Linked DNA regions of Homo sapiens. The protein of the gene in region 2 purifies or fractionates together with the protein of the main gene of each other region. This does not show direct contact. Each region holds a gene or a part of one and is shown on either strand. Other genes may lie near its edges. The genes, in order: ELMO2 and CHN2.

Region 1 (3,823 bases), on a different chromosome or scaffold from region 2:
GTCCCTGGCCATCCTGGAGAGCATGGTCTTGAACAGCCAGAGTCTGTACCAGAAGATAGCCGAGGAAATCACCGTGGGACAGCTCATCTCACACCTCCAGGTGTGAGTAAAAAACCCTACACCTCCCTCCCTTCACTTGTCTGTCCTCTTTTCTCCTCTTATTTTAAGTCTTCCAATCCTACTCTCCTTTGCTTATATTCCAAGCTGTTGGTTGGCTTCTTCATTCATCACCTCTTCCACACTCCTGCCAGAATTTCTCCCATCATTCAGACTTGATCATGTCATGCTCCTGCCCAAAATCCTCTGTAACTCTCTCTGCCCCTTAGGTTAAAATGAAGATTTTCCCAGTCTTCCCATACCAGGGTGGTACCAGGCAAAATTAGATGCTTTCTCACATGGGCCCAGTAGTCTCTGTACCTATGATAATTATATAAAATACTGGATTTTTATTATCTGTTGCCCATTTTGAACATAGAGCCCCCTTGAAACAGAGACCAATCATTGTTGTATCCCCTGTTTTGATTTAAGTAGAGGCTCAATTAGTGCTTGTTGAATGAATGCTCACTGAACCGACGATGCACTGTGGGTGATTTGTAAGAAATATCACACAGGTGTGAGTTTGGAATATCAGTTCAAATCCAGGCTCTTCTGCATACTAGGTCTCTGCCATCAGCAAGTAACCTAGTCTCTTCTGGCCTCAGTTTCTTCATCTCTAGAATAGGTTAATCACCTTCACCTCTCACACTGTGAGGATCAAAGGAGATTTTAAAAAGGTCCAGCATAGAGGCCAACCTGGGTTAGGTATTCAGTAAATTCAGGGGCTTTTTTCCTTTGTTTGTTTGTTAAGACTCTTATCACATCCTAAAACATTTTACCAGATACTGAGACCATATGACAAATGAACCCATTGGAGCAATGTTTCTCCCGTCTCCGCTGTTTTTACCTCACTTCCAACCAACCTACACCATGTAAGGAAGCTGGACTTTGCAAAACAGTGGTGGCACTCCTGTTGATTCTCTTCTGACTGTTGTTCACTTCTGTTTTTTAGACATTGTCAGAATGTTGCCAGAATCCCCCACCAGTTCGAGGGGAAGTCATAGCTCCCAGATTTGGGAGTTTATAGTGGCCCTGTCTTCACTCAGCTATGCTCCCAACTTGTTTTTCCCCACTAATCCAAGTAAAAAGAAAGCACAATTATTTCTTTGCAACTCTGATTTCTCCTTGTCACTTTTAAGGAATTTTCAGCCTCAGCTTTCTTTGCTTTTCTTTTTTGAGACAGGGTCTCACTCTGCCGTCCAAGCTGGAGCGCAGTGGCATGATCATAACTCACTGCAGGCTCAAGCGATCCTCCCCATCTCAGCCTCCCGAGTAGCTGGAATCACAGGCACACTCCACAACACCTGGCTAGTTTTTTTTTTTTTTTTATTTTTGTAGAGACAGGGTCTCGCTGTGTTGTCCAGGCTGGTCTCAAACTGTTGGGCTCAAGCAGTCCTCCCACCCCAGCCTCCTGAGTAGCTGGGACTACAGGTGTGAGTCACCATGCCTGGTCTAGCCTCAGCTTTCATACCCAGCGAGCCACCAAGGTTGATTAAGGTGAGAGGGACATTATAAACTCCAGATAGAGAATTCTGATTTTCCTGTAACCTCACATCTACTTCTCTGGTTTTTTTTTTTGTCTCTGAATTCAGAGTGGCCCCAGTTGCCTCCCTAGGGATGATAGGGGAACATGGCATTTCATAGGAGCCAATACTTTCAGCCCACAGCTGTCACCAGAACTTATATGCTTTCCTTTTTGGGCTGAGGGATACTTAGTGCCCTCTGTTAGACTCCCTGGGTACCATGTGACTAACCAGGAAGCCCATCAGACCCTCTGGAAAGACAGCCACAGAATGCACCCAAGACATGGCAGGTGGAGATGTCAAGTACCAGGATTGTAAGATTCCAGAGAATGATTGTAGTTATTTTGTTTGTTCATAATAAAATAAGTTTATAGTCAAAGACTTTAAAAATACAGAAAAACGCAAAATTATTTGCCCATTATCTCACCTCCAGACATACCCACTGTTAAACATTAAATTGAATGTCCCTTCAGTATTTTTATGCATATTTTTAACAAAATCGGGATCTCATTATATATACTATGTGTACCTTGATTTTTTTTAACTGAATAATACACCTTGAACATTTCTCCATGTCAAAGATTTTTCTAAAAGGGTAGTTCTAAGTCTTTTTTGCAACCTAGACACCTTTGAAAATCTGGTAACAAGTATATACTCTCACCAGTTTGGAAAAAATACCACTTAGTTGGCAAACTACATAGAATAATTTCTGTATCATTCCTGGGGTTCACAAATACTCTAAGCTCATCCCTGAATCCCAGGTTAAGAATCTTTACCCTAAAACATGACTTTTAATAACTACTTAAGATTCTCATATGTATAAATGTTGGCTAATGTGACCATTTGGATTACTTTCCATTCTTTTTTAAGTAGTACTTTAATGAAACGCCTTGTCAGTAAATCTTGCATAGCTCTCTGATTACTGTCTTAGGATAAATTCCTATTAGTGAAATTGCTGGGTCAAGAGCATGCCCACTTTGAATGCTTTTGAGACTGAGCTCCAGATCATTATTTGCTTATAATCTGTGAGTGATTGTTTTAAACCATTTCTAAGCATCATCTTGCTGTTCAGTCTTCTAATCTCCCTCTCTCTTCTTTCTCCATTGACACAGCTCCAACCAGGAGATTCAGACCTACGCCATTGCACTGATTAATGCACTTTTTCTGAAGGCTCCTGAGGACAAACGACAGGTCTGTGGCTGCCTTTTCACATTTTTCATCTGGGCTCTTCTGAGATAATTCTCACCCCATGCACTCTTTGCTATGCAGAGAGCACAAATCCAGCAATTTTCCCAAGAGTTCTTCCTCTTAGCTGTCTGGTCTGGAGCCCAGGAGGGTGGCTTTGCTAAGGAAGACCCAGGGAAGACCTATGAGGGGAAACCAGCTGGGTCTTAGATGAGAGCAGGGCCCTTCAAACTTTTTCCTCTAAAGGGCCAGAGAATAAATATGTTTGACTTTATGGGCCATATGGTCTATGTGATAGCTACTCAACCTTGCCATTGTAGCCAAAAGCAGCCTCGGCCAGTAGGTAAATGAATGGGTATGGCTGTCTTCCAATAAAATCTTATTTACAAAAACAGGCAACAGGCCTAATATGGCCATAGTTTGCCAACTCCTGGGTTACAGAATCAAGAATAAGGAAGAGGAGACCCTGTGGCTACCCTGAGTCCAAGGAGTCCAATATGAATGGGATTTCACACTAAATCTTAGGTTTAAAGGTTCTCTGATGGAGATTCTAAACATCTTCCTTCCCCTGTTCATTAACTGTGACATTATGCAGATAGCTCTGCCTCTGTGAACCTTAGTTTCCTCACCTGTCACATGGGAGCAACAACATCTGCCTTGTTTACCTCACAAGGATGTCTGAGGAAAAACAAGATCCCTGTTTCACAAATAAGGAAACTAAGAATCAGCTGGGTGGTGGAACAAACACTGACCTAAGAGCCGAGGGGCCTGGGACTAAGTATTCTCCCTGCTGCTGGCTGGACAAGTGTTTGTAACCTCTTTTTGGGTCTCAGTTTCTCTTTCTGTAAAATGAAAGGGCCAGTTTAAATGATCTCTGACAGCCCTTCCAATACTAACATTCTAGATTTCTCTGAGAAAAGCCCAAGTGGTGTTAAAAGTAAGACATTTTAGTTCTCTGACAATCTCATGGGCTCAGTAAGATGAAATTCAAGTGGGATCATGTATGTACCCAGCTCTTG
Region 2 (3,823 bases):
TGTATTAATCACTCTTCCAGCAAACCAGACATACATAGGAGGCACAGCAAAAGACCCAAGGTGAGGGGCTTCCCTCACCTTCACCCTTGTTCTCACGTGGAGGTGGCGCATGTCTATGAGACACAGTACCCCACTCAGCGATCCTCTGCAGTCCAGGAAATTCTAGCACTTGCTTGGAAAACAAATCAAGTGGTAAGAAATGTTTTTATTCCTTTAGCTGTGTCAACTTGGATGGTGCTGGGGCCATTCAGCTCATTTCCCTGATGGATTAGAATAAAACGTCTTCGTTTTCTATTAAAATCTGCACAATCAGCTTTTGGTACCGCATATCATGCAGGGTGGTCAGGGTGCTGTCCTCAGGGGGCCTCATCAGAGTGGGCCCAAACACGATCCCCAGATTTTCTGCATTCATGAAATTGTCTTTTTCATTCATAGTAACCCTGCAAAACAAACATATAGAACAGAGACATTATGGAGACTTGAGGATTGATTTTATGTATTGATTATGTATGTAAGTCCCGATAACATCTCTGGTTCAGGAAATTGCAAGAAAAAGATTGGGAATCAGAACAGCAGAAAGGTATTTTTGGAAGGGTAATTTACTGATTTTTCGTTTTAAATTGTTGACATTGCCTTCGCCGGTGGAAATGAATTACTTATGTGAATCTGGCAGGAACACAATTTTTAAAATTAGAAAATTAGTCCTCCTTATTAAGTAAATGTGGAACTATCATTTGAGGAATACTGGTTTGTAGGGGCAGCAGATTCTGAGGCTGGCCCATGGTCCTTTCATAGGCCTTATACAGAAGGCGTTTTTTTTTTCCCTCTTGTGGCTTCCTGCTGGTCTGTATGCTGGAGAGTGGGAAGGGAAGGGCAGGATCCCTCTCTGCTGGGAGGACCGGTGCCAGAGGAGAAAGGTTATGTGTAGAATGGGCTGTCATGAATTGAGGAAGAGTCAGGCCGTTATCGTGGGGTGGGGGAACGGCTGGAATGTCGCCAGACTGGACGGCAGTTGGACATTATTTCTAGTTCCCACAGGATGAGGTCTACAGCAGTTGAAATTAAAAATCATTTCGACATCCAGGTAAGAACTGCAGAGCCTTTAAGAATAAAATTCAAACTGCAAAGCTGGTTTAACACCTTCCTCATGGAATAAAATTACAATCTATCTATCTCCCAGAGTTTTGTTTTCACAACTTTAAGTTTTAGAATGTTCATAATAGATGTAAAAGGGAATGGGTTCTCCAAAAATGAGCAAAATATAATTAAAATGTGTTTAGGAAAATATAATTAAAATGTGTTTAGGTTGTGCATAAAAAGCCATCCCTTTCTATTTCCTTATAACTCATTAGGATTAGCCATTGAGTATTATTTTAAGGTCAACCCAGTTTGTGTCATGTACATGCCACAAAGCCTAAGAAGAAGGTTGGAAAGAGGACGTTTCTCACCATCAAAGTGCCCACAGTTTCCTCTTAAGTCAGGCACTATGCCTGACTAAACAAGATGGCTGGCAAACCCACTATGATAAAGATACAGTATTATTGGCATTTAAGGTTCAGCTGAAAGGTGTCAGCATTTTTCTGGTAGTGGTACTTTGCCTTCCAAACTGTAACAACTGGATATTGATCACAATAAGTATTTTACAGCTAATTGAAAGCCAGATGTGATACCCATAGTTTATTATCTAAAAATTACTTGCACTCCTAAATTCAGTAAATTAATCAGAATGGGAATATTCTGAGCTAAATGTTACCATCACCCTGAATCTGAGCAACAATATTGTATGTCTTCTTGTATGTCTTATAAGGTAGAAAAATAAAAATCTCAATACCTACTGTTTATACAGTCCTCCGTTTGCTTCTTTTCACATACTAAGTAGATCTGTAAACTGGTCAATGTAGACAATTTTCGGTTCATTTTATTTTTATCAAAGAATGGGCTGCTGCCAAGTATCTTTCAAAAACACAGAGGCACACAGATGTGCCCTGATCCCTCCAATGTTATAACACCAATTCATCGACCTCATTACACATGTGCAGTGAAAGAGAGAGACACAAGGTTTAGGGAGAATAGTGTCACCAGAGGTTCTAGTGTCCCATAAACATCCAGACGTCTCCATCTCTGTCTCCCACACACTCACGCAGACAGCTGTGTGTGTGGCAGGTACTCTCTGAGATGGACCTCAGCGATCCATGCCTCCTGGAATTCATACCCTGCATCCCTTCCCCTAAAGTATGGGATGGACTTGATTTGCTTCTAACAGATAAAACACGGTAAAAGCAATAGGATGTCACTTCTGAGATTAGCTTACAAAAAGACTGTCTCTCATATTGGGTGCTCTTGCTTTTTTGTTCTGAGAGAAGCCTGTTGGCTTTTTGTGAGCTGCCTATGGAGAAATGCACATGGCAAGGAACTGAGGGTTGCCTCCAGCAAACTGCTGGTGAGGGAGTGAGGCCTTCAGTCCAACAGCCTTTAAGGAACTGAATCCTGCCAACAACCATGTGAGTGGGCTTGGAGATGGATGCTACCACCATCAAGCCTTCAGGAGTGAATTTTTTTGTTCTTGAGACAGCGTCTCATTCTGTTGCCCAGGATGGAGTACAGTGGTGCCATCTTCGCTCACTGCAGCCTTCGTCTCCCGGGTTCAAGCAATTCTCCTGTCTCAGCCTCCCAAGTAGCTGGGATTACAGACCCATCAAGCCTTCAGATAAGACTGCAGCCTCATTACAGACCTTGAACTGGAGGCAGCCAGCTGAGTCACACCTGGATTCCTGACCCTTAGAAACTATGAGATAATAAATGTTTACAGTTTTAAGCCACTAAGTTTCGGGAGCAATTTGTTACTCAATGAGAGAGAACTCACACATCCAGAAAAATAAGAGACCAGGCTGGGAATGTGCTCTCCCAGGAGGCAGGCAGTCTCAGGAGCCTGGAAAGGGGCAAGCAACAGGGGGATGAACAGGACACAGAGTACAGGGCTTGTGTCAGATGAAGATGCAGACACGGAGGCAGAGTAGTTAAAGGCTGTACATCAGCCTGCCTGGGATCCTGCCTTCACCTCTTCAAATCAGCTGTGTAACCTCCCCAGGCATCAGCAATCTCACAAGTGACACAAGGCCCCTAATGGCACCCCTTTCTTTTTCTTTTTTTTTTTTTTTTGAGATGGAGTCTCGCTCTGTTGCCCAGGCTGGAGTGCAGTGGCACGATCTCGGCTCACTGCCAGCTCTGCCTCCTGGGTTCACACCATTCTCCTGCCTCAGCCTCCCAAGTGGCTGGGACTACAGGCGGCTGCCACCACGCCCGGCTAATTTTTTTGTATTTTTAGTAGAGACAGGGTTTCACCGTGTTAGCCAGGATGGTCTCAATCTCCTGACCTCATGATCCGCCCACCTCGGCCTCCCAAAGTGCTGGGATTACAGGCGTGAGCCATCACAGTGGCGCCCCTTTCATAGGGATGATACACTGAAAGTGCCTGGAGTGGTTCCTGGCACAGTGAAACTCCAGCAGTTATGGCTGGGGAGGAATGCCGTCCACTTTTCCTCATGCATTAACCGCTCTAGGAGCAGAGCAGGCTTTGTGCACGAGACATGAGCTTACTTTTTGAGGTGGATCATTAGGTACCGGAGGGTTTCATAGTGGGCAGGAGGCAGCAGCATCAGCACTTCATGGACGGCTTCCAGCCTCTCATCTGCATTGGAGATTTCTGTGAAGTTCACGCATGATGGGTATTAGTTCAGAGTGTGGCATTCAAGTTTTCAGAGAAGTAACAAGAAGTTTTTGTTTTAGCCAGAAGTGGGGAAGGATTCTAATAAATTCATGCAAT

The links.
Region 1: the proteins of CHN2 (region 2) and ELMO2 purify together in Homo sapiens (affinity purification with mass spectrometry, with the first as the bait; one large-scale study listed by BioGRID). This does not show direct contact.

What each region holds. Positions count from the first base shown.
Region 1 is NC_000020.11:46,382,403-46,386,225, reverse strand, and holds part of ELMO2 (engulfment and cell motility protein 2), read left to right. Parts: coding exon 1-102; intron 103-2,731; coding exon 2,732-2,810; intron 2,811-3,823. UniProt on the Homo sapiens protein: Involved in cytoskeletal rearrangements required for phagocytosis of apoptotic cells and cell motility. Acts in association with DOCK1 and CRK. Was initially proposed to be required in complex with DOCK1 to activate Rac Rho small GTPases.
Region 2 is NC_000007.14:29,509,181-29,513,003, reverse strand, and holds part of CHN2 (beta-chimaerin), read right to left. Parts: intron 3,704-3,823; coding exon 3,598-3,703; intron 2,820-3,597; exon of another isoform or gene 441-2,819; coding exon 269-440; 3' UTR 1-268.